7 linked regions of the Homo sapiens genome follow. The protein of the gene in region 2 purifies or fractionates together with the protein of the main gene of each other region. This does not show direct contact. Each region holds a gene or a part of one and is shown on either strand. Other genes may lie near its edges.

Evidence for each region.
Region 1: the proteins of MMP3 (region 2) and DKK3 purify together in Homo sapiens (co-immunoprecipitation; one large-scale study listed by IntAct). This does not show direct contact.
Region 3: the proteins of MMP3 (region 2) and MGAT1 purify together in Homo sapiens (co-immunoprecipitation; one large-scale study listed by IntAct). This does not show direct contact.
Region 4: the proteins of MMP3 (region 2) and MAN1A1 purify together in Homo sapiens (co-immunoprecipitation; one large-scale study listed by IntAct). This does not show direct contact.
Region 5: the proteins of MMP3 (region 2) and CHST12 purify together in Homo sapiens (co-immunoprecipitation; one large-scale study listed by IntAct). This does not show direct contact.
Region 6: the proteins of MMP3 (region 2) and KIAA0319L purify together in Homo sapiens (affinity purification with mass spectrometry; 3 studies listed by BioGRID and IntAct, with this or other methods). This does not show direct contact.
Region 7: the proteins of MMP3 (region 2) and TIMP3 purify together in Homo sapiens (affinity purification with mass spectrometry; 2 studies listed by BioGRID and IntAct, with this or other methods). This does not show direct contact.

What each region holds. Positions count from the first base shown.
Region 1 is NC_000011.10:12,005,827-12,010,000, forward strand, and holds the start of DKK3 (dickkopf-related protein 3 isoform 1 precursor), read right to left. Parts: upstream 2,801-4,174; 5' UTR 2,757-2,800; coding exon 2,544-2,756; intron 1-2,543. UniProt on the Homo sapiens protein: Antagonizes canonical Wnt signaling by inhibiting LRP5/6 interaction with Wnt and by forming a ternary complex with the transmembrane protein KREMEN that promotes internalization of LRP5/6.
Region 2 is NC_000011.10:102,837,956-102,840,609, reverse strand, and holds part of MMP3 (stromelysin-1 preproprotein), read left to right. Parts: intron 1-16; coding exon 17-181; intron 182-357; coding exon 358-502; intron 503-1,366; coding exon 1,367-1,500; intron 1,501-1,899; coding exon 1,900-2,059; intron 2,060-2,654. UniProt on the Homo sapiens protein: Metalloproteinase with a rather broad substrate specificity that can degrade fibronectin, laminin, gelatins of type I, III, IV, and V; collagens III, IV, X, and IX, and cartilage proteoglycans.
Region 3 is NC_000005.10:180,785,807-180,789,306, reverse strand, and holds part of MGAT1 (alpha-1,3-mannosyl-glycoprotein 2-beta-N-acetylglucosaminyltransferase), read left to right. Parts: 3' UTR 1-3,500. UniProt on the Homo sapiens protein: Initiates complex N-linked carbohydrate formation. Essential for the conversion of high-mannose to hybrid and complex N-glycans.
Region 4 is NC_000006.12:119,346,962-119,350,956, forward strand, and holds the start of MAN1A1 (mannosyl-oligosaccharide 1,2-alpha-mannosidase IA), read right to left. Parts: upstream 2,801-3,995; 5' UTR 2,581-2,800; intron 2,327-2,580; coding exon of another isoform or gene 2,105-2,326; coding exon 1,502-2,104; intron 1,496-1,501; exon of another isoform or gene 1,409-1,495; coding exon of another isoform or gene 1,373-1,408; intron 1-1,372. UniProt on the Homo sapiens protein: Involved in the maturation of Asn-linked oligosaccharides. Progressively trim alpha-1,2-linked mannose residues from Man(9)GlcNAc(2) to produce Man(5)GlcNAc(2).
Region 5 is NC_000007.14:2,402,343-2,406,410, reverse strand, and holds the start of CHST12 (carbohydrate sulfotransferase 12), read right to left. Parts: upstream 2,801-4,068; 5' UTR 2,738-2,800; exon of another isoform or gene 1,381-2,737; coding exon of another isoform or gene 1,311-1,380; intron 1-1,310. UniProt on the Homo sapiens protein: Catalyzes the transfer of sulfate to position 4 of the N-acetylgalactosamine (GalNAc) residue of chondroitin and desulfated dermatan sulfate.
Region 6 is NC_000001.11:35,547,404-35,550,903, forward strand, and holds part of KIAA0319L (dyslexia-associated protein KIAA0319-like protein), read right to left. Parts: intron 1-3,500.
Region 7 is NC_000022.11:32,853,705-32,857,204, reverse strand, and holds part of TIMP3 (metalloproteinase inhibitor 3 precursor), read right to left. Parts: intron 1-3,500.

The sequences.
Region 1 (4,174 bases), about 91 Mb from region 2:
TACTAATAACCACAGTCTATAAACAATCTATTGTATTCTATTTTTGAAGATATCTAAAAGATACTTTTAGTATTTTAAGATTAATTTTTAATGGTTTAAGATATTTTAAAAGATAGATTCTATTGAGAATCTATCAGACACTGGTGGTGTTTTGTTATCATTCATACTGCTACTAGTAATATGATGATAATGATACCTGTTACTTATTTACAACCAACCATCATGTCATCCTTACAGCCACCTCACAATGAAGCTACCTGTATTACACGTGTTTTACTTAACCCCATTTTAGGCAGTCAGCGGATGGCCTGCCCTAGAACCACAGGCATCACAAGCTCAATTTAATGTGAAGCTGCAGAATTAAGAGACATTGGGGCCTATATGACTCCCTTCACCCTTTAATTGTTCCATGTCATGATAGTTTCACAATCACAGGAAACAAAGATCATGGATCTTGGGCTCTTGACCTGACCAGTGGATATTCAGGGATAGCTGCCCAACTCACTGATTTGCTTTACTTGCAGCATCTCATTTAATTCTCACCTTACCCTAAGAGGTGGACATTTCTCCACTTCAGACTCGGAACGCCACTGCCAGTAAGTGGCAGAGCAGGGACTGGATGAGGGAAGATCAGTCCCCACTGCCTCTTCTCCTGCCATGGTGTTCAACCTCTCTCATCCTGTACCCACTGCCAGCGAGGACACCTCTGGGAAAGAGTGGGGTAGAAGTGACAGCCCACATCTCCTCTGGTGGCAAACTTCAACCCCCCAACCTACACAGAGCCACATCTAGAGGGAGGAAAGCTGGGGTCTTGGCAAAATCCAGTCTGGATAACGCCCATGGAGAAGACCCCGTCACTAGGTCCTGCAGGGCCCCACACTGCTCTGCTCAAGAAGAGACTGAAGAGGCCCTTGCTGCTCTCTCTCCTCCCTCAGCAGAAGCTAACGTCAGAGGACCACGCTGCAGACTTTCTGAACAGTGGTGGGCACAAAAACATAGAGGTGACTTAGTCAGTCTTACCGGGAATCTGTGTGCAGGAGGGAAAGTCCTAGAACCTGGATAAGGAAAGCAGATGGCCTGCCCTAGAACCAGAGGCATCGCAAACTCCACTTAATTTGAAGCTTCAGAGTTAAGAGACATTGGGGCCTATCTGAATCCCTTCACCCTTTAATTGCTCCATGTCATGATTGTTTTGCAATCACAGGAAACAGAAAGATCATGGGTCTTGGGATCTGGGCCTGTCCAGTGGATATTCAAGGACAGCTGCCCATTTCACTGCCTCCCAAGCCAGTGTCCCCTTCACTGCAAACTCCACAGGCTAACTGTTGTGGAGTGGGAGGGGAAATAGCCCCAAACTACAAAGGGCTGCGGGGAGAAAGCAACTTCCCCCTGGAGACAAGGGCCAGCAGTTAAGGCTTTGCCCAAGGGGGATACCAAGCTGGAGACAGCAGGGATGTGAAGCCAGACCAGGGGCCAACCAGCCTGGACATTGGTTTCCTGCTGCCTCCTTCACTAGGACGGCTGGCTCCTCTCTATAGACACAGGCTACAGACAGATTGGGCCCAACAGCGCCCTCGTCTACCCACCCCAGGCACCAGGGACAGCTCCCCGCACCTGGACAGAGAGGGCTGGGCCAGTGACATCTCCTGCCCAGGTAGCCCTGGGCATGCGTGGGTGACCATCACAGAGGACAGAACAAGATGCCACCCACAGTGTTTAGACCTGGAGGTGATGGAGGGCAGAAGCTAGGCAAAGCTTTGCTAAGGTACGTGGTATCTGATAATAGTTGCTAAATACTGCGCACCTATTATTTGCCAGGTGCCCACACATATGACATTTAGTTTTCACAGGAAACTGAGGTGCAGGATATTAAGTGATTTGCCCAATGTCACCCTGCTACTGAGTGGCAGAGGAGGACCTGAGCCCAGGACAACTGCGAAGCACCGTTGGGTGGAGGGGGTATTGCCTCTCACATCCTCATCCGCCACTCATACAGTGCTGAGATTTAGGATTTCCATCTTCCCTCTCTGCCCCCACATTGCGTGAGAAGCAAGACAGCCCAGACAGACTGCCAGCAAAGCTCAGGGCTCTTTGCCTCTTTGTCCCTGCATGGCATCCTAACAAGCTCAAAGCATAACGGACAAGCTAGAACTTGGCGATGCCTGGAGCTTGTCCCGGGTTTCTGTGAAACCACAGTGCTGGAATACCAGGGGCCCTGCAAACCTCTGCTGACAATAGGGAAGGCCAACGGCATGCCTGACGCCAACTGCAGGCAGGTGGTGGCCCCAGCTACCTAGGGAGGGTCCAGTGCAGAGCCTCTCGGTGGACAGGCTCAGATCCAGACTTTTTGGCAAGGAGGCAAAACGAGGCGGGAGTAGGGATCACCGTGCGCTGCCTCCAGGTCACTCCGCATCTGCTGTCGGCCCTTCCCAGGCCCTGCGCGGGACCCGAGGTCCCTGGCCAGCGCTCTTCCATGCCTTCCCAGACTTCGCTGCCCCCAGTCTGGCGCTTCTCAGAGCCCCGCGCCGCCAGGGCGCACCCACCTCTTCCACCGCGCTGCGCAATTTGTGCTGCGTGTCCTCCATCAGTTCCTCAACCTCGCGGAACATCTCATTGAGGGTGGCCTCCTCCTGCGGGTAGCTGAGAGCCGGGCCGGGCTTGACTGGAGCCGAGGTCGCCGTCGGAGCGGGCGCGGGGGCCGTGGGGACCGCCGCCGCCAGCAGCAGGCACAGCAGGGTGGCCCCAAGCCGCTGCATCTCCGCTCTGCGCCCGCAGCCGCCGCCTGTGTGTCCCGGAACGCGATCAGAGGCGCGCGGACCACCCCCCTCGCTGGGCCCGCCGCCCCGCCCCGTTCCGCCCCGCCGCCCGCCCCTGGCGCCCCTCTTTCCCGCACCCGCCCGGAGACGGGAGGAAACCGAGGCCCCTGAAAACGCAGCTCCCCTACACCCGAAAAGACGCGACCCCACCCGCTCCAGCCCGAGCCCCGATCGCCCCAGGACCCCGCACCCCCATCCTCGAGCACAAGCTGAGCTCTGCTCCTCACCTGTGATGCTGGAGCCCTCGCCAGAGCAACCGAACCCGGATCCTCTACGCTAATAGCTCCCAAGCCCCAGCTCACCTAGACTCTGTCCCCGGTTCAAACCCTAGCCCCTCCTCGACCAGGTCAGAGTGCCCGACCCCCACTTCCACCTCAAGCCTCTCTCAGCCCCTACCTGGGGTGGACCAAGCACAGGTCAGCCCCCTCCCCTTGGCGTCGGGTCCTACTCGAGCGCCCCGCCCCACATCCACCAAGAGAGGCTGAGCTCAGCAGAGTCGTCCCCTCCCCCGCCGCCGCCCCTCACCCACCCCGACTGGACCGAGTTGCGCTGCGGGCCGGACTGGATCTGCTCGCTCCCGCCGGGAGGCCGCCGGGCTGCGGGTGCAGATGCGGGAGCGGCGCGGTGGGCGGGCCGCGGGTGCGGGAGCGCGGCGGGGTGCGGCAGCGCCGGTACCCGAGGGAGCCCGCAAGACGCGCCCCGCCCGCCCACCAGGCTCCCTCTCCGCCCCCGCCCCGAGCCCCGCCCGCCCACCAGGCCCACCCCGCCCCGCGGAGGGGCCGCAGCCCGGCCATTGGCCAGCCGGGGCGCCGGCCACCTCACGCCCCACGCCCCACGCCCTCCTCTTCTGCCTCAGCGACCAGCTCTACCGAAGGCAGCCATCTCCTTCACTGCCTGCCCCTGCGCCCGCGGCATCCCAGGCCCGTCTTCTCTGGCCTCCAGGCTTGCAACAGCCCACCGAGGTTGGGGGTAGGGGGAATGTTCCTCAGTCCCACCTTGGTCTTTCCAAGCCAACCTCTGTCCTGTGAAATCCTCAGGAAAAATCCCAGCCCCCAGCCTGGCATTCAAGCCATCACCGCTGGCCTTAGTCTGCCGTGATTGACACCGTGCTCCAGCCAGGATAACGCACTTGCAGCTCCTGGAATGGGAGAACGTCATGAGAAAGTCAGCAAGCTCCTCAAGGGTGGCATAGAGGAGTGGTCAGGACCAGACACCTGCAGCCAGCTCTGCTCCTTCCTAACTTCCCGCCCTGGCGAAGTTACCAGATTTGTATGCGTCCCAGTTAGCCCTAATATAAAACTTTGACAAGTCTCAAAAACGTAATAAGGAGTGGGTAGTGGAGAATCAGAGAAGTTAGA
Region 2 (2,654 bases):
TCAATTTCTTAAATAGGGACCAATTTATTTCTCGTTGCTGCTCATGAAATTGGCCACTCCCTGGGTCTCTTTCACTCAGCCAACACTGAAGCTTTGATGTACCCACTCTATCACTCACTCACAGACCTGACTCGGTTCCGCCTGTCTCAAGATGATATAAATGGCATTCAGTCCCTCTATGGTGAGTGACACTGGGAAAATCAGCCATTGTAGTTTTGCAATGATGGTCTTCAGAAGAGCTTTCAAATGCTACATAAAGTATTTATGATTTAGTTCAAAGCACCGTGAGAATGTTTGGAAAGCATACAAATGGGCATATATTGAAACGTATCACATTTCCCCTAATGTTCCCTTTAGGACCTCCCCCTGACTCCCCTGAGACCCCCCTGGTACCCACGGAACCTGTCCCTCCAGAACCTGGGACGCCAGCCAACTGTGATCCTGCTTTGTCCTTTGATGCTGTCAGCACTCTGAGGGGAGAAATCCTGATCTTTAAAGACAGGTCAGGCTGAAAAATTATATTTTCCTACCATTTTAATCTACAATGTTTAGAAAGGAAAACACGCAGAAACTTGATAGAGATTCTTAGACATTTAAAACAAAAACGTTTCTTCTGAGCTTGGAATCATTTAGATCTGGTGCTGCCTTTTCCCACATTTTCCTAAAATTGTCAGGTTCATTTTTGAAGGCACAGGCTGATCTGGTTCTTAGCTTCTAATTGCTGTTTCCAAATGTCTTAAGTCACAGTTACTTTTCAAAAGGCATGAGTAGATCTTTCGAATAATAATTTTATTTTTACTTCCTTTAAAAATGACATCAGGATCAACATTACATTTAATCAAGTAATTTACTTACTGATGGATCAATATGCACATGACAAACATTCAAAGAGCACAAATGAGAAGCAAATTAAAAATTTTAGTTCCCAGTTCTCCCTGTACTCATCCAGAGTCAAGACTTTTTGTGCATCCTTCCAGAATCTTTCTACACACATACAAGAATATATTTACACAGCACATACACGTATACAAACACGGCCTAGCTTTTGGAAGAGGGTATAGCACACGCACTGTTTTGCATACATTGCAGGTAATTAAAGCTTATGCTGGGCTAATTCATTTGCACGATAGAATAATTTTTCTTTCATAGAAGACATTACTCTGGAAACCTATGACGGGAGACTCACTACAGTCTTCTGAAGAAAAAGGAAAGAAATTTTCTAATGGCAATATACCTGATTTCTATCTGTCATCCAGCCTAGAAGATGAGAGAATGGGGGAAGCTGGGTGAGGCAAGACGGTGAGGAAAATATTCTAAAGGTGAAAGATTGTTTTTCAATTTACATTTCTTTTTACATATATTTTAGGCACTTTTGGCGCAAATCCCTCAGGAAGCTTGAACCTGAATTGCATTTGATCTCTTCATTTTGGCCATCTCTTCCTTCAGGCGTGGATGCCGCATATGAAGTTACTAGCAAGGACCTCGTTTTCATTTTTAAAGGTAATTACTATATCATCATTTGTTTAACTTGCCAAAGTAAACCCTCTCATAAGAAATTGAACAACACTTTAATTTTCCCTACTACAAGTTCTGGCTAATACAGTAGTCAACGGTAATGAAGAAATAACCAGGGCTGATATCATTGTATTTATATTTCATAGATGATAAAAATAAAGACAAGAAGATAAATTACCCAGAGTTGTAAATTCTCTCATTTGACCTTAGTTCATTCATTCAGTCTGCAAATTTTTGTGAAAAGCCCACTGTAAGCTGGTGACTAAATCTAAAATTTGGGCTACTACTTTACCATGAAAATCAAAGATGCTAAAGTGTATTTCTAAAGCGAAAGGGCTTAACTGTTATAATTCAATATGACTCTGAATTATTTATATTTAACAGGAAATCAATTCTGGGCTATCAGAGGAAATGAGGTACGAGCTGGATACCCAAGAGGCATCCACACCCTAGGTTTCCCTCCAACCGTGAGGAAAATCGATGCAGCCATTTCTGATAAGGAAAAGAACAAAACATATTTCTTTGTAGAGGACAAATACTGGAGGTGAGATGCAAGAGAAATGACTTTGTATGGAGCCTAATTAGGGAAATTAGTTTCTTTTACTAAGGAAATCCCCCACCCCAACCTTAGGCCTGCTTCTCTCTTAGTAGGAAGGATGGGACTTCAGACAACTGTGGGAAAGTTCTTACTTTAAAACAGCAGCACCTTAGGCTCTCCTGCTTTCAGTCCCAAGTGCAGTTGGCTGGTGCTTCCCTTGGTGCTGTCACCCCACCTGCCTGGAGCCCCCTCTTCTCTCCTCAACCTATTCAAATCTTGCCCATCCTTCAAGTCCTGGCTCAAGTCTCATCACCTCCATGCAGCTTTCCCTCGTGGACTTTAGACCCATTGGGAAAATGTTCTGAGAACCCAGACCGCAATTTAGCGTTCCCTTCCCATTGTCTTTTAGTTTGGCTCACTGTCTCACTGTGTGTTTGTCACTGTCTCATTGTGTGTTTGTTTTGTCTTCCTAACACTACTATATGATTTTCAAGGGCTACCTCTAACCTCACCCACTTGTCACCTCTACCTGATAATGATGGCTCATTTAAGAGATGATGATCAATAGCAGTCCAGTTTATGGATACAACCCAACACTCAC
Region 3 (3,500 bases), on a different chromosome or scaffold from region 2:
GCGTCTCAAAACAAAACAAACCAAAAACCCTGGGCTAGGCAACTTTCTTGGCAGAAACTACTTTGGAGCTCGACACCAGATGGTGGCAGAGTTGTCTGGGGAGCTGTGTCGAGGGCCGTGGCCTTGGGAGCAGCTCCAACCTCCCATCTGGGCTCAGAAACCAGTGTCAGACATTGGTTTTATTTTAACCTTTGAGATTTGTGTGGAGCGGGTTTTGCCTTCCCCTGTTGCTTAGATGGATTATTTAGCCATATTTTTTGTTAAATAAGGGGAGGTGGTCATTATCCGTGATTTCAGACGTGGAATCGGCCCGGCGATAGCTGCATTGTGCCCTTTCCGGTGGAGCCAGGAGGAGTTTGGCCGCCACGCTCCATGCGCATAGCATGTCATGCAGCTAGCCAAGTGCATTGTTCTGAGTGCTCCAGGATAAGTACCAACTTACTTAGTGCTCCAGGATAAGTACCAACTTAGTGCTCCAGGATAAGTACCAACTTACTTAGTGCTCCAGGATAAGTACCAACTTACTTAGTGCTCCAGGATAAGTACCAACTTACTTAGTGCTCCAGGATAAGTACCAACTTACTTAGTGCTCCAGGATAAGTACCAACTTACTTAGTGCTCCAGGATAAGTACCAACTTACTTAGTGCTCCAGGATAAGTACCAACTTACTTGATCCTCAGAGCAAGCCTAGGCGGTGGGTACTGTTTTGCTCCTGTTTTACCAGTGAGGAAGCAGGCACACAGAGGTGAAGTTGCCCAAGGTCACACAGATGGTTGAGGGAGAGCCGGATTGGAATGAACTCTGTGCTGTTAGCCACTGTGTGAGGCTGGACTGTTCCATTCCAGCCTTTACGGCCTCTTCCAGGCCATTCCCCAGCTGCACTTGGATTCTCAGGCCAGGCACCGGCGGTCTCCTGTGAGGGTGGAGAGGAAGAGGGGGCTGCGTGGCTCGGGGAGGTCCAGGAGAGATGGCGGGAGGAGTAGAGTTTGGGGCCTGCGGTGCCAGAGGACCCCCTTACAAGACGAAAGACTGGGTTCTCAGGCTCCTGAAGCAAGGAGCACCTTCAGGGGTCTCCTGGTATTCACCCATCAAGGCTTGCTCAGGTGGCATGCGTGTGTGCGTGGCGGCTGCCCCCGGGCCCGGAAGCGCCTGTGGATACCAAAGCAAGTGGAAATGCCAGATGGAAAAGCCCCGTGTTAGTCAATGCTGTAGAGTTCAGCCAGCCTCGAGTTTGCAGGTTTACAGAGCTGCCTTGCGCCTGGCTGCTGCTGCTGCTGCATTCCTGCTTCTGCCTCCAGCTGTGACCACCTCCTGCCACTCCTGCTCTCACTGTGGGTTCCTGCTCACTCTGTCTCCAGGACAGACTGCCTTCCGGGCAGCCTTCCCTCCTCAAGCCTCTTGGCCTTTGCAATCCTCTTACCTGGGTCACTGGTGGGATCTCATTTGTGGATCAAGTCGCCCCCAGTGGAGACAAATGTCTGATGGAGTCTGGCCAAGGCCCTCCTGAGCCTTCACTGGGCCCTGCATGAGAAGCCTGCCAAGGCTGAGGGGCCAGGGAAACGGAGACGAAGCCCTCAGAGCAGGCCAAGAGGGTGGGAGGTGGGGGGCATTTAGAGGGTTAGATACAGAGCACCCCTTTACAAATACCAGCTACTGGCTTTTCGTATTACATGTTCATTTTAGATACAACATACTGCACACGCTCCCTTAACGTGTGTTTACGCGTGGGTGGTGTATCCTTCCAGACGTCTTCCTCACATCTATACATAATATGCATAGATAAAACATTTACCACCAAAACCCATAGTGTTATGTACATATTTGTCTGGCTGTGTAACTTTAAATAACATACAAATGTATAGAACAGAAGCTTGCCCTCTTTCTGAAATATCTAACGTGGGATTTCAGGCTTTCTGATGAGACCTCTGTAGAGGTCAGTGTTTTGCCACCAGAGGTCCTTCAGCCTCCATCTGTTCTCCCACCTACCCACATTCTGGCCCCTGGCAATTCACAGGGAGTTTAGGAAGTAGACACCAGGGCCCTATTTCCTGGAGACCAGCCTGGTGGCCGATGTCATAGAGTGCGGTGGGCCTGGGCCGGCCCTGCTCTGGGCCCGTGACCTGCGTGTCTGACTCGGGTCCAGCTGTTCTTCCTGCCAGAGCCTCTTCCTGTGAGGCGGGGGTAACACAACCTTCTGTGGTGGCTGTGGGATTAATCCGTATGGCTGCATTGTGAGTAAAGCCTGGTGGAAATCTCTGTCTCCACTGCTTTCCTTTTCCTGCTGTTCACCTTGGCTCCCTCGACACTTAATCCCCCTCCACATGTGTCTGGAGCGGGCAGAGCGGGGGCAGTTGATAGAAAGGGGGCCGGGTAGTGCCAAGGCTGTTACTTTCCCCCACTGCCTCCCTTGGCTAACTTGAAGTCTGACCCTTTATACCAGAACTGTAAGACAGTGTGTCAGAATGGATTCAGTTGCAGAGCAGGAAGCCTGGATCCCAGCGCCGGACGGAAATGAGAGGTCGATGGTGCAGGCTGGTGTGGGGGTTCCTCCACCGTCAGGGCCCAGGCTCCTTCTCAGGTCTCAGTCTCACTCTTCTTAGCACGAGGTCAGGTCTCATTCCTTGGCTGCGGGAGCTCCAGCCAGCACACGTTTTAGGAAGAAGGAGGAAGGAAGAAGGTAAAGGGTGGATGGCAGCTGCCTCCTCCTCTCTTGGAAGCTCACAGAGCGCTGGGTCACAATTCCCTGGGTAGAACTGGATCACACAGGCACCCCTGTCAGCAAAAGAGGCTGGAAAAAGTATTTCTGAAGCTGAATCAAATTAAGATTCCTGTTACTAAGAAGGGAGTGATTGTATGGGCGACTACAGGGACCACGGCCATACACGGTGCCTGGAAGACCAAGCTTGTGACAGTGACGAGGATTTGGAGAGGGCAGGGTGATGGGGAGCTTTGGGGGGAGTGCATTAGGAACCCTGACCTGGAGAGGGGCAGAATGAAACCTGCGGGCCCCTAACCCTAGTGGGTTGTTTGAGAAACCTGTCCTACTGTGGCAGGGGGCTGAGTCTTCTCAGGGTCATGCATGAAAACTGAAATTCCTGAAGGCCACACACAGCCCCGGAAGTGCTGACTGACAAGGGCACATGCCAGTGATGCAGTTTTCTTTTTTGTCTTCACTTTTGTTGTTCCGCCGTCTTCAACACATGGCTCCCAGCTCACAGCAAATGCTGCCCTGGTTCAGCTACCAGGAAGCAGGAGAGGGGAAGGGAGGGCAAGCCTCATTCTTTATGGAACAAAAGCAGTGGGCAGACAGCCTTCCCTCACGTTCCACTCACTGGAATGTGGTCTGGCTGCCTTCCCTGCAGGAGGTGGGATGCACCCTCAGTGCAGCAGCCCTGCCCCAGCCAAAAACGTCTCAGCACAGCTGTAAGAAGAGGAAGATGGCTAGAGACAGGCAGCCTTCCCTGCAAGGGCAATGAGGCAAGCCTGCCAAAAGCCTCCT
Region 4 (3,995 bases), on a different chromosome or scaffold from region 2:
TTTGGTAGCACAGGCAGGATTTCATGGAGAAAGGAAACTGCTAGACAGTTGTTCTGGAAAGTAGAATCCATTCCCCCAAGTATGGGAGGGTTCTGTCCCTGAGGAGGGGTCTCAGAAAAGCAGATATGCTGATGGACTGTGGAAGGAAGCTATCTGCATAGGAAGGATGAAGACATTCTTCCTAAACCGAAAGGGATCCAAGTCCACTTTAACTTGCTCAATTACAGCTTAACCAAATTCAGCTGATCTTATAATACAAAGTCACAAATCCCATGACAATCCTGCTGCCTTCATTCTGCAGCCACTTAAGCTAAACACCTCTCAACCACCTCAAAAATCTGTTTACTCTCTGAAAATGGGATCAGGGACTTCCTCTCCTGATTACCTACCCAATATGAAAATACAATATTTATTTTCACAGATCGTATTATTTTTTAAATGGCAAAAATATTACTTCCATTCATATTTTAGAAAATTGAACCAAGATTTGGAATGACATGCTTTTAATGTGGTTCCTACAGCTTTTCTATGTAAAACGCAGGCTGGCACCGTTTCACACAGGGAAGTAGCTCAGAGAGGAGGCATGTCCACAGACCGCGTGGTGACAGGTGACTGGGGGAAGTTCGGACCTCGGGCTTCAAGTCCTGACTCATCACTAACGGGTTCTAGAGCTCTGGGCCCTTCGATCTTCATCTTGAAAATGACAGCCTGAAAGGACTTTTTACGGCCCCCTTCAGCTTTAAGCTGGTCCTGACCTAATCACATGTTTCAAGTTCTAACTGAAAATTACGAGAAGGAAATTAGGAAAGATGTATCAAAGTCCATGTTTATCCTGGATTAACTTTGTCACCATTGTGCTGCTGTGGAGGCAAACCTGTTGCATCACATGGAATACCCTATTTCTGGCTGTGCATTAGAAATACAAGAGGCAGCCGACTGGCTTTTTATATTTTCATTTTTTAAAAAAGTAAACAATAGTATCCCTCGATGATGGGAAGTTCTCAGGTTTCACCTTTATAGTCTGAAAGTACACACAGAATGCCACCTGGCAGACAAGGGCCACACAGCTGAACCCGGGGTATGCTGGCTAGCTTTACCACGCGTGAAGACTCACTTTAAAGCCACGTCCCCAATCCTTACCAGGGGGCTGATCAGTGCCGTCGCTGTTACTGGTGGGGCGATTAACCGTGTAGCGGCCAGAGAATGAGGTTTGCGTATTACCTGCCCATGTATTTATACCCACCTCGTGTGGCTTGTGGTCACCAGAGCAAGAGCATGCAAATTAAAAGCAACGAGATTTGACCTTAGATCTTACTGGACACATCTACTACTATATTGGAAACAGGAAAAGAAAGAGCTTTTGACACAGCACCTGGTGGAAGGGGCAAACCTCCATCTCCCCATACATTGCATTGTTGCAGTCTTCAGAGTTTCAAAGGCTTGCCGTTTCTCCCTGAAAAACACGGCCGGTCGGGAGGGATTTCTGGCGCGGCCCACTCACCTCTTTGATCTTTGCCCTTTTCTCGCGGATGGCGGCGTCGGCGGGCTCCCGGCTCTCCACCCCGATTGGGGGCACGAAGTCCACCGGGGGCAGGCCTCTGAACGGCGCCTTGTCACGCAGCTGGTCCTGGGCCACCTTCTTCTTCTCCAGTAGGATGTCTCTTTGGATCTCCTCGGGCAGCTTCTGCAGGGTCTCCTTGGCTTCCCTGAGAGCCCGCTCGTGGTTTTCGCGGATCCTGGCCAAGTTGTCCTCCAGGGCGGCCTCCGGGTCCCCGGGTGCCCCCTCCTCGCGGCGCCGGGCTCGCCCCTCGGCCGCGTCCTCGGCGCGCGCCCCGGGCCCGGGCTTGTGGTCGGCGGCCGGCTGCAAGGCGGGGCTGGAGTGGAACAGGACCCCGCTGAGCAGCTTGGAGGAGTCTGGCAGGAAGAAGATCGCCCCGAAGCAGAGCGTGATGAAGGCGCTGAATACCAGCAGCAGCACGAACTTCTCCGTCAGGCGGAGGGCGGCGGGGCCCGACCCCTTCCTGCCACCGCCGCCGCCGAGCCCCCCGCCCAGGACGCCGCCCGCGGGGCTGCTGAAGAGCGGCAACAGGCCCCCCACGGGCATCGCTCCCGCTGTCCAGTGGTCCGGCGCCGCGCCGCTCAGCAGCCAAACTTCGCCGCCGCTGGGAGTCCGCGGCTGCGGGGCTGGGTCCTGCGTAGCCAGGCCGCCCGACCCCCTCGGCTGGGCTGCGGATCCTCCCTGGGGGAACAACTCCGCGCCGGGTCTTCTCCCCGGGGCGGCTCCTCGGGCACACAGGCACGCGCGACAGACCGCTGGCTGCAGCCCCTGCGGGGAGAGAAACAGTAAAACGTAGTAATTACGGCGATGATAAAGTTTCCAGCGGGTCTCCGCCCTCCGACTCCTGGCGAGCCTCCAGGACCGCTCCCCTTAAGCAGAGTCCTGTCCAGTCCGGGCACCGCCCTCGCAGCCCACTCTCTGGACTTGGGGTGAAGTTATCAGGTCCCGTGGGTAGGGGAGGGGTGTCCCGCGCAGGAAGGGGTCAGGGCAGCGCGCGAGCACCTCGGGGAGGGGCAGCGCACCTCTGGGCAGGAGGGGCGCAGCGTGGGCGGGAGACTCGTCAACTTCGCCCGCTCCCCATCTCCGCGCTGAGACTGCTGCCTCTTTCCTAGGCTGGGCTGAGCGCGCTGTCCCACGGTCCCGCAGCCCCGGCGCGGCTCAGGTGGGCGAGCGCGCCGACCTGCGGGCGAATGGCAGCGAGTAGAGCAGCACGGTACACTCCGCCGCGGCCCCGCGAGCACTAATCTCACTGCCGGTCTTGGGGCGGTGGAAAGCGAGGGAGGCGACGCGGCCGGAGAGTGACGGCGCGGCCGGGCCAATCACGCGCCGCCCAGGGTCCCGCGGGGGCGGGGCCGAGGCGAGGAGGGGGATGCGCGGGGCGGGGAGTTTACGGGAAGCGCAGCCTCGGCGGGGCCCGGCCGGCGGCGGGGAGGTCGCGGGGCCGGGAGGCGCGAGGTAGGCGGGAGCCGCGGTGAGGAGGACGGTCGAACCCGTGGCTGAGGCCCAGCGCCGAGAAGCGGCAGGCAGAGTTCGGGGTCGGGGAGTTTATCCTGCGCTGGCCTCGGCAGGGGTCCCCGGGGTGGTTGATCCTCGACTGGCCCGGGAGGCGCCTGGGTCCGCGCGGGACCTCTCTGCCTCCTCCTCCGACCCGTGCGGGGCGGTCGGGGGCGCTCCCGAGGGGGTCCCGGGAAAGGCGGGGTCTGGCAGGGGGTCCTGGGCGCTGGGTCGTTCAGAAGCACGGCTTTACTCCAGTTACCCTCTTTTTATCCAAGGCCGGGGTTCCCCGGGTGCCTGGTAGCAGTGAAACCCCAAGTCCCTCGGTTAGGGGAGCCGTGACCCTGGGAGCTTTTGAGCTCTCTGGTATAACATCCTTTTACATCCTAAGAGACACAGTTCTGTGCTTGCTTAGGACTTTTTTCGTATGCGCCCTTTCTTCCCCCAAAAAACAAAAAACCGAAAAAACTTGTATGTCTCTCCCGCCCACCCGTACTTTCACTATTCATTTACCTCATAGAAGTTGGTCAAATTTTCCATTCGAAGACGAGTTTTATGCTGCGGTAGCTTCAAGCAATAAGTCGAACACTGTGTTGAAATTAAGTCTTGGATCCGACTACTTCCAGCGAAGTGAGGAGTTGGTCCAATAGAAATTATTTTCCAAAATGTGTTGTAATTCTCCTGTTGCTCCACAAATAAGGGGTTATCAGAGAGGAAAACGTTGACTGACTTCGCATTTCTGAAAGCTGGTTTGTAGTCGCCTTATTTCATCCTTACCCTTCTCTGGAAATGTGACATTAGTTCTGTTTGTGCTTAAGACAAAGGAAACAGCTGGCACCTTTCGGGAAGGTGGCTCCAGTACAGTTGTTTCCAGGTGTTAAGCTGTATGAGAAAGTAGAAAAGTAATCAGAAATCCTTACTAGTTTTCATTTAATCATTTAAT
Region 5 (4,068 bases), on a different chromosome or scaffold from region 2:
GTACTCAACTGTGCCCCCACCCCATACTCAACTGTGCCCCCACCCCGTACTCAACTGTACCTGTCTCCCATTCTTCTCTGAAATATCTTTAAAGTTTCTAAACAGTTACAGAAACCACCACCTTAACAGCAGGAAGTAATAAGTTGGAGAGTCAATTATCTCCAGGCACATCTGTGGGCCAGGGCTGGAGAACCACAGTCCCGCCTGCAGCCACAGACCCACTAAGCAAGTGTGAAACTAACAGCTACTCTCCGAAAAGAAAGACAACTTAAGAATCGAAACTCAAGATGTACGGTTTTTTTAAATGACAAACAAGCCGCATGTGTTTCAGTATCATCAATAACCCGTCTTTTCCCACTGATGGCTCCTTCAGCCCCTGACCCACACTAGAAGAGAATCACCTGCCAGCCTCAATGACTGTGCGTAGTCAAGGAACTGCACGCCCAAGGTCAGCCAACCAACGGGCCTCTCTTCAGCTCTGGATCCCTTCCCACTGGGGTTCCTGGGGATTCCCTCCTTGTACAGGCTGTCTCTTCTCCACCAGGTCACATCTCCTCCAGGATGGCCACCAATACCGCCAACTCTGCAGGTCTAAAACCCACGTGTGTTTGTGTGGCCCTTCCTCTCCCACCTGGCCGCAGCGCTCCTCATCGCAGGTGAGAAGTCCCGGCTGCCCTCGCTGTTACAGGTCGCCACATCTCACAAAGCGCCACCGCCCAGTGGATTTGGCAACATCTTTCAGCTCCATGCCCGCCCCCACTCTCTCACTGCCCCAGACCCACGCCCCACAAGGCTACTCAACTCAGCTCCACTGCCCAGAGGCAAAACCCACCTCCCATATTCTCACCACGACCACTTTTCTGAAACACATCTAATCGCGTCGCACCCAAACCACCACCAAAGGGATAAAAGTTTAAACTCCCTCACACAGCATTCAGGCCCCTGCACAATCAGAAACCCATCTTTCCAGTCTTTTTTTTACTCTGTTGCCCAGGCTGGAGTGCAGAGGCCCAGTGTCGGCTCACTGCAACTTCCGCCTCCAGGTTCAAGCTATTCTCTTGACTCATCCTCCTAAGTAGCTGGGACTTCAGGTGTGCACCACCACGCCCAGCTAAATTTTGTATTTTTAGTAGAGATGGGGTTTCACCATGTTGGCCAGGCTGGTCTCGGACTCCTGACCTCAGGTGATCCGCCCGCCTCTGCCTCCCAAAGTGCTGGGATTACAGTCACGAGCCACCTCGCCCGGCCTTCCAGTCTTAGCTTCCAACCCAATCCTCAAACCCCACTTCATCAAGAACACGGCGACCCACCATCTCCCCCAAACATCACTTTCACTTCCACATCTCTGCATGCCCTTTGCCTCCAAACGCCCCAATTCATAGGTCCTCTCCACTGTGGAAAATGTCGGAAAATGTCGCCACATTCTGTTAACGCCTGCACCACAGTCTCAACTCCACACAGTTGTAGCCAGGCTGGCCGTGAGCTCCCAGGGCAAGGCCCACGCTATTACCGGCATCTACCCCAGCTTAGCATCTTGCACTCGATTGGAGGTTTGATAATAAAGCTGGAGTCAGCTGAGTGACAGCAGACAGTTACTGCTGGCCCCAAAGCGTCAGCCCAAAGTCCCATAAACTCCTTTGCAGGGAAATCAAACATCTATGCCATTCCAGGCAGGTGCTCTTTCAGATCTCAAGCGTTGCACCTTCGTGTAGCAATCTCCTCATTACCCCTGTTTTCTCTCCATCCTCACTCAGACACCAGCCCTGACTCCCAACACCAGATGCTCACGGTGAGGGGCTAACCCGGGTCCCCGCGTGGGGGTAAGTGGGGGACCCGCTGAGCTGTCCCCAACCACCCACAGCCGGGAACAGCACCGTAGGGCCTGGTGTCCTGGAAGATGTACTGCGTCCAGCACCGCGCCTGCAACTCACATTCCTATTCACCCCGGGGCTTCCGAGTCCCCACAGCCCCGCTTATGAACTAAATAATTTAATAATGCTGGAAACACTATGGCTTGTTGTGCTGCCTGCCAGACGGAGCCTCTGCCCGAGCCAAGGCTTTGCCGGCGGTGTCTCGGTGGCCGGGAGCCCGCAGAGGAGGTCTAAGTCCCACTGTTCCCGGACTAAATGCACGGTTTCCTCTCCCAGAGGGGCAGGGCTGCGGCTTCTGGAGTGAGAGGTCATTTAAGGGATACCCTGAGCGACCTGCCGGTGCTGCTGGCGTCTGCAGGCTCCAGGGCTGCGGTCGGCGGGGCCGGGGAGCCCCGTTCAGGTGACAGCAGGCACACGGGGGCCCTCGGGAGCTGGGGATCCTGGAACTCCAAGCCCGGGAATTGGTCCTACCCCTGCCGGGCGGCAGAGGCTGATGCCGGGCAGGGGGACTCCTGGGGGCCGGCGGGGCCGCTGCAGCCTCTGCTGTCGCTGAATCAGAACCACAGATTTCTCGTCCAGACCCCGAGGAGCCGCAGAACGCGCTGATCAGGGCCCCAGGGCTGGGTCCCCCTGGCCGAGGACGACGAGCGGGGCTCAGAGAGGGCGCGCGCAGGGCCAAGGTCACACTGCGCGCCGGCGCGGGAACTCGAACCCAGGCCCAAGCCGCGCCCGCCAGGCCAGGTTAAGGAGAGCCGACCCGCGCCCCTCAGCGCGGCCCGGGACCCCCGCCCGGGCCCTGGGAGCCCAGCACTGGCCGAGAGAGAGGGAGACCGCGCCCCGAGCCCGCCGCCCGCCGCGCCCCTCACCTCGCGACCCTCACCTCGCGCCCCTCACCTCGCGCCCGCAGCCGCCGCCGCCGCCCCGCGACTAGCGGACCCCCCAGAGGCAGCCCTCGCCGGCCCCGCCCCCGGCGCAGGAGCCCCTCCTACCGGTCGTCTTCTCGCGAGACGTCGCGGCCGCCGGAGGGGCCACGGAGGCCGAGGGGCGCCCGCCCTCAGCGCGCCTGCGCCCGGCCAGCCCGCCCGCCCCCGCCCTCGCGAGCCAGTGCCATGTGGCGCCGTATTTACGGCCAGAGATCGACTCCGCCCACCGGCCGCCACGAGCCACGCCCCTTTCTCAGCAGCCAATCCGCGGCGTTGACTCCGCCCCGGCGGACCGGGCGCGCGGCGGCTCGGGGACGCGCAGCTGTCTCGCCGTTCGACCCGGGAGCTCCACGTTGCAGCCAAACACGATCCCGTTAACCAACCTTTATGCAGTGCCTGTTGTCTATCCGACCCTTTCTCGAGCATCGGCTCATTGGCAAAGGATCGTGATGCTCACCGGCTGGGGCTTGAGACTCGCTGTGTGACCTTGGGCAAGTGACTTAACCTCTCTGAGGTTGTCGCCAATCCGTAAAATATAATAGGTTAGTGACCCTACCTTTCAGGGAGTATGTGAGACAAACGAGATGACACGGGTAAAGAGCTTAGCAAGATGCCTAATGCATAGTGAGCATGCAGTAATTGTTCTTGGCATCAATGTAGTTTTGTGTGTTTGTTTGTTTATTTTTTTAGAGACAGGATCTCACCGTGTCGTCCAGGATGGGGTGCAGCGGTGCAGTCACAGCTCACTGCAGCCTCGACCTCCTGGGTTCAAGCCATCCTCCCACCTCAGCCTCCCAAGTAGATGGAACTACAGACAGGTGCCACCACACCCGGCTAATTTTTAATTTTTAATAGAAACGGGGGTCTCACTATGTTGCCCAGGGTGGTCTTGAACCCCTAGACTCAAGCAATCCTCCTGCCTCAGCCTCCCAGAGCTCTGGGATTACAGGCGTGAGCCACCGCGCCAGGCCCAGTCATTTTTTTTTTAAATTATGGTAAAATATATAGAACATAAAATTTACCATCTTAACCTTTGTTGTTGTTGTTGTTGTTGTTGTTGTCGTTGTTGTTGTTGTTGAGACAGAGTCTCGCTCTGTCGCCCAGGCTGGAATACAGTGGCCCGATCTCGGCTCACTGCAAGCTCCGCCTCCCGGGTTCACGCCATTCTCCTGCCTCAGCCTCCCGGGTAGCTGGGACTTACAGGCGCCCGCCACCACGCCCGGCTAATTTTTTGTATTTTTAGTAGAGACGGGGTTTCACCGTGTTAGCCAGGA
Region 6 (3,500 bases), on a different chromosome or scaffold from region 2:
TTAAAAACATATGTTCACACAAAAATGTATACATAAATGTTAAGAGCAACATTGTTCATAATAGCCAAAAAGTAGAAACAACCCAATGTCCATCAACTGATGAATGGATAAACAAAAGTGGCATATCCATAAAGCAGAATATTATTCAGCCATAAAAAGAAATGAAGTACTGATACCTGCTAGGATATGGATGAACCTTGGAAATATTATGCTAAATGAAATAAGCCAGACACAAAAGGCCACGTATTGTACGATTCCATTTATGAAATGTCCAGAATAGGCAAATCCATAGAGTCAGAAAGCAGATTTGTGGTTTCTAGTAGCTGGGGGAGGAGAGGATAGGGAGTGACTGCTAATGGGTACAGGGCTTCTTCTAGGGGTGAGAAAAAAGTTCTGGAATTAGATAGTGGTATATCTCAATTTTAAAAAACTTCTTGGCCAGGTGCAGTGGCTCACGCCTGTAATCCCAGCACTCTGGGAGGCCAAGGTGGGTAGAATGCTCAAGGCCAGGAGTTTGACACCAGACTGGCAACATGGCAAAACCCCATCTCTACTAAAAATACAAAAATTAGCCAGGTGTGGTGGTGCACCCCTGTAGTCCCAGCTACTCGGGAGGCTGGGGTAGGAGAATTGCTTGAACCCTGGAGGCTGAGGTTGCAGTGAGCTGAGATCGTACCACTGCAGTCCAGCCTGGGCAACAGAGTGTGACTCTGTCTCGAAAAAAAAAAAAAACTTCCTCTAATCTCTCTACTACAGAACATCTAAATTCTACCCATCTCTTTAGGACTACCTCTACTTGTTTGTATTGAATGAAATTACTGAGAGGTTCCTTGAAGACAGAGTCTCATCAACTTTCTCCTGGACTATTTCATTAACATGCTAATGGATACCCTAACCTCTAACCCTGACCTCCCTCCCTTTTCCATCCATCTCCATCTCCACAATTACCACTTTTCTATACTCCTGCAAAAATTATTCAGAAATTTACCAGTATTATAGTATATTTAATACAGTATTAATAGTTTTATATTTAATACTAGCATTAAAGTATTATAGTGTTTGCCTTAAGAGGTGCACAAGACAAATCCCTCGGGCATGAAAAGAAAATATTAGAACTCTTCATATTTGCTTCTGTCAATCCCTTTAACATTTTGTTTTTGGCATCTCTTACACATATATAAGACATTAGTATAAAATTACGTGTTATAATGTATAAATTTATATACAGGGGTACATTCTCAATTTTTCAATGGATTAAAGTGCATCATGAAAAAAATTTATAGACCATCTACCTAAAAAGTTTAAAATTGAAGCTTCTTAGCATAGCATACAAGATCCTTTGTGACCTAGCCACCACCTACCTCTTCTGGAGCTGCCATACCAGCTTTGCTCTTTATATTCCAGTAGTGCTAAACTGCTTGTGGAGTTTCTTCTATATACCAGGCTGTTTCACTTTTGTGCCTTTGCTCTTGCATTCCCATTGCATGGGAATACCCTTTGAATCCTTCAAATTCAACCTTCACAACTCTGTTCAGGCATCAGCTTCTCTAGAAGATGCTTCTCTAGAAAGAACTCCTTAGAGCACCCTCTTTGCCTCCAAGCTAAATGCTTCTCCTACGGTTCCAGTAGCACTCTGTGCGTTGCATCTTTTTTTTTTTTTTTTAAGAGACAGGGTCTCCCTCTGTCACCCACACTGGAGTACAGCGACATGATCACAGTTCACTGCAGTCTTGAACTCCCGGGCTCAGGTGATCCTCTCATCTCAGCCTTTCGAGTAGCTAGGACTACAGGTGCCCACCACCACCAGCTAATTTTTTTTATTTTTGTAGAGATGAGGTTTCACTATGTTGTCCAGGCTGGTCTTGAACTCCTGGCCTCGGGTGATCCTCCTGCCTCAGCCTCTCAAAGTGCTAGGATAAGCCAATGCACCTGGCCTCTACCTTTTCACTTGCTACTGGTAGTTATTCCAGAGAAAGGATTGTATTGTACTAATCTTTATTATCCTGGTGCCTAGTCTAGAAGCAGACTCCTAGTAAGTTCTCAAAAAATGGTTCTGAATTGAATAATTTATCTCTGTACTCAAAATACGTATTAACTAACTGTATAATCTCCTTCCCAGAGGTAGGGAAATGTCAGTACAAGTTTTCATAGCCAACTGTTAGCTCTGGGCCTAAGGACATTGGCTTCAGTGATTCTCCCTGTTTCAGATTTCTAGGGCCAATTAGGTCCTTGCATCCCCCACAAACATGCACACATAACTCTTCAGATGTATACATTCTTTCTTTGTATGTGTTAATATATTTGTTAAGATTTTAGTCAATCTTGTTGGTCTCAAAAGCATTGGTCTCCTTAAAGTGCCTTTCCATATCTCTGCTCTGATTTTGTTGTTTTTAAAGCTTAATTCTCAAAGAACAATTCCCTTATTGGTAATTTATTAATTTATTCAGTCAACAAATATTTTATGCATCTACTATGTGCCTTGGTACCCGCTAAGAATATCTAGCATAACTAAAAGAGGCAACATGTCTGCTCTCAAGAAGCTGACAATCTATTGTAGGAATTTCCAAAACTCCTGGGATCACTTCCTATTTGTCTCCAGATGAGAATCCCCAGGTCCAAAACACTATTTTTCAAGCCACTTAACAATAAAATTAAACAGAAAAATAGCCATTCCATGGCACACAAGGAAAACACAGACAGACCATCTTTTATCAAATTGTAATCAATGCTTTCTAACAGTAGGGCTTCAGTACTGAACCCAAAAGTGGAAATAAAAAAGCTCACCATGTCTAAGTCAACAGCTGCCTGGGGCTCTACCAAAGATGGAGCAAACTCCTAAGTGGTAAGCGGGAGTGGAGGATAACTGCAGAGCTGCCTTAATTTGGTTAGTTTTTCAGAAATAATCCATGAGCTAAATAACAGCAGGAATCAAGAATGTATTTTATCGGAAAAAAATGTAAACACTCAGGTAAACACTGAGTAAACTCATGAGTAGAGAAATACTGACTCAGGCTCCCACCAATAGGTTTTTGCTGTTATTATTTTGTTGTTGCTTTTTCAAGTAGGTTGTTTTCCCCCTTATATAAAAAGGAATACAAGTATACCAAAGAAAGGCCTGGAAAACACAGAAAAATATGAAGAGATAATAATTCCTCTAGTCAAAAAAATACATAAATATTTAGTTGTACATCTTGTTTCAGACTGTTTTCTATTACATAATTTTTTCTTCTTTTCACAAAATTGACAGCATATTGAATATGTAGTTGCATAACTTGATTTTATCATTTAATATTAGGAGCATTTTCCCGTGTACTTTTTTTTTAAATTATTAAACATTTTTTAATTCTAAAGAGACAGGGCCTCACTATGTTGCCGGCTGGTCTCAAACCCCTAGGCTCAAGCAATCCTCCCATCTTAGCCCCCGAGTAGCTGGGACTAGAGACGTGTGCCACCACACCCAGCTTTTCTTTTAAAATATGAATTTTAAGACTGGATAGTAT
Region 7 (3,500 bases), on a different chromosome or scaffold from region 2:
ACACCCGTATGATCCCTAATCCCACTGCTGGGTATGTATCCAAAGGAAAGGAAATCGGAATATGGAAGAGGGGTCTGCACTCTCATGTTGACTGCAGCAATATTCACAATAGCCAAGATATGAAATCAACCTAAGTGCCCATCAACAGATGAATGGATAGACAAAACCTGGTATCTATACCCAATGGAATATGATTCATCCAGAAAAAAGAATGAAATCTTGTCATTTGTGGCAATGCAGCTGGAACTGGAGGTCGTTTTGCTAAGCGGAATAAGCCAGGCACAGAAAGACAAATACACCATGTTCTCACTCATGTGGGAGCTAAGAAAGTAAATCTCATAAAGATGGACAGTGGATTGGTGGTTACCAGAGGCAAGAAAGGTAATAAGGATTGGGGCAAAGAGATATAATTAATGGGTACAAAAATACGAGTACGCAGAACAAGTAAGACCCAGTGTTCATTGAATCAGTAGAATGACTACAGTAAACAATAACTTATTGTATATCTCAAAGTAGCTAGTAGAGGATAATTCAGATGTTCCCAGCATGAAGAAACGATAAATGTTTAAGGTTATGAATATCCCAATTACCCTGATTTGATTACTATACATTTTTGAATATATCAAAATACCACATGGACTCTCAAAATATGTCCATTTATTATGTATCAATAAAATAAGAGGAACACAGGAGAGGAGTCTCAGTACCCAGAAGGCTTGCTGACATTGGATCTGAGGGAATCTCGCTCCCCTATTCAGCTGTCCAGTGGCCGGTCACTGATCTACCCACCCCAGGGCCCCCTTCACCCCAGATGAAGCCACCGATCCTCTTGACTAGCCAGGTTGGTGCCTTCCCAGAGAAACCTTCCTGTGCAGCCAGCCATACCCCCCATTCCAACTGCCCCACAACACTCCTTCGGCTACACATGTCTGACATCCCAGCACCTTTTCAGAAATCCAGAGAAGTAGCTGTGACAAAGGTCCTTTTTCTTTGTCAACCTTAGGACCTGAGTCCCGTGAACTCAGCCAGCATTCTCATGATATCTCTGTGACACTTTCCAGCCCACAAAAACATTCTCACTCACATTCTCCTTGCAGTATCCTTAAAAGAGCCCTGGGAGGGATGTATTACAAACCCCACTTTATAGAAATTCTATTTGGCTGGTGAACGTTGAATTCAAGCTAGAAATTCTCCATGTTTTTTATTCTTCTGAGCGTCTGGTGAAAGCATTGGGTTCGTTTATCCCAGATGAAGCACATAAATGTATCTACAAAGTTCAAAGAGTTTTAACTGTTAAATACTTTATAATTGTTAGATTGAACCACGTGAAATTGCTGATATTTGGCTATTTGTATCTACGACATAATCTAATACAGTGGTTCTCAACTGGAGGCAATTTTGCCCCCCTAGGAAATATTTGGGACATGTGGCAATGTCTGGAGACAATTTTGGTTGTCACAACAGTTCGTAGAGGGTAGGGAGGTTGCTAAACATCCCATAATACTCAGGACAGCCCCCAGAACAAAGAATTATCCGGCCCCAAATGTCAATGGTACTGAGGTTGAGAAATCTCCTTTAATATTAGCCCACGAATCACCATGACAACCCTATGAGGTAGGAACTATTATGCCCATTTTATAGATGAGGAGCCTGAGTCACAGGCAGGCTAAGTAGCTTGTTAAGGCCACACAGTTGGGAAATGGCAGGGCTAGGATTCCAAGCAGAGGACTCTGCCTTCAGAGTCCATACTCTTACCCATTATCTTAGACTGGCTCCCAGGAAAGCCTCAGAAGTCTATGACCAAGGTCCCCAGAAGCAGGCAAATGCTATTTCCATTTATGGCCACTGTGCCTCCTTCAGAGGCACAGTGTGTGCCCAGAGTCACTGGGGTGAATGAATGTAACAGAAGCTGAGTCCGCTTTGTGATTCCAGGTCAAGTCCATGAGTATTACACAAGCCCAGTGTGCCAAGGCGATACTGTGAACTGTGAGATTTGGTAACGGGGGCGGTGGGGCACCAAGGTGTTGCACAATTCTGTTATCCCCTCAGTTCTCAGCGTACACAAGCCCTGGACTGCTGGTGGTCTCTGGGCTTGTCCCAAGGGTTTATAATAGGAAAATGCCTCTACTTTACTTCCTGGCATTTGGTATTAATTTACCTACAGTAATTAATACAAAGCCAGACATCTCTTCATTGGTGTCTCTTCTAAATGCCTCCCATTTGGCCTGTGAGCTGGCGTTTTCTCATCTTTTAAGTGGTGACTGGTTGGCGGGGGTAGGTGGTCCACAAGACCTTCATAGCATAACTTGGTCTGTTGGACCTACTGAGTTTGGGCGCCCCTGCCTTGTTAAAAGCACACATTGTTCTGATGGACTCAGATGGTCTTCCTTCTGAACCTCTCTTCTCCCCCAAGGCTTGCCAACTGAGCACGGTAACGCAGCCAAGTGCTGGAAGAAGTGCCGTCCACACTCAGCATTCAATTACGCGGTGGGGGCGCGGGGTGGGTAGAGTCACGATGATGACTTCTTCTATGTGAATGGTGCCTCTCTAGCCTTAACAGGAACCATGTTTAAGCGTGCTGCTGTATGCCTGCCATGGAGTGTGGCCTTCGAAGAACATCCCCTACCCTGACTTCTGTGCCGAGCAACTTCTTATTTTTGTGTGGGTGTTCCTTGAGGTTTTGGCAAATGTTTCAACTAAGCACTCGCTCTAGGTCTTTTGGACCCAGCCCATGGGAACCTCATTCCTTCTGCGTCAGTCTTTCCCCTTGACTGCCCTAGTGCTTCGTGGGTGAGAGAATGAAGCCCCTGGTTACAGTCTGGTCATTTGAACTGCTCAGTAAGAACTCAACTCATCGAAATCAGCTTGGCACCGCAGCTACTTGGAAGTTTGAAGGAACCTGCATTTTAGCTCCTAGCACTTGCCTAGAGTCGAAATTCTGACACATTACAAATGACTGGCTCTGACAAACATAGCGCTGTGTTTTAGGGTCAATTCTGAAAAGAACAACATGGCAAAGGTAGATTCTACTCAGTTGTGTTTTCTGTGTAATAATCCTACCTTGATTTAAATATTGATTCTAAAAGTATCATGTCTGTAATCATAGAGATCTAGAATTGGTTTGACAAATTTAGGAGAGTTATAATAGGTTTATAATGTCCTGACATCAGAGAATCCTAGAATCTCAGAGTTGGAAAAGATGTTAAAGGTAATCTAATCCAAACCAATGCCATGGAGATCAGTGGTAAATTCAGGTTTTGGAGGCTGACAGCCAGAGTTTGAATCTTCAATCTTCTCTGCCACCTGTGTTCGCCACTTGGAAAGTTACTTAACCTCTTTGGGTCTCAGTTTCTTCATCTGTAAAATGGGTCAAAGCACTTCTTAGGGTGTTTGAGAGAAGCAAATGACTTAGAATAGCAGTCAGCCCACAACATTCAATAAAAGTTAGCTTAGAACAAGTTATACTGAAATTCGTAAGGAGAGGAGGAATGAGTTTGGTC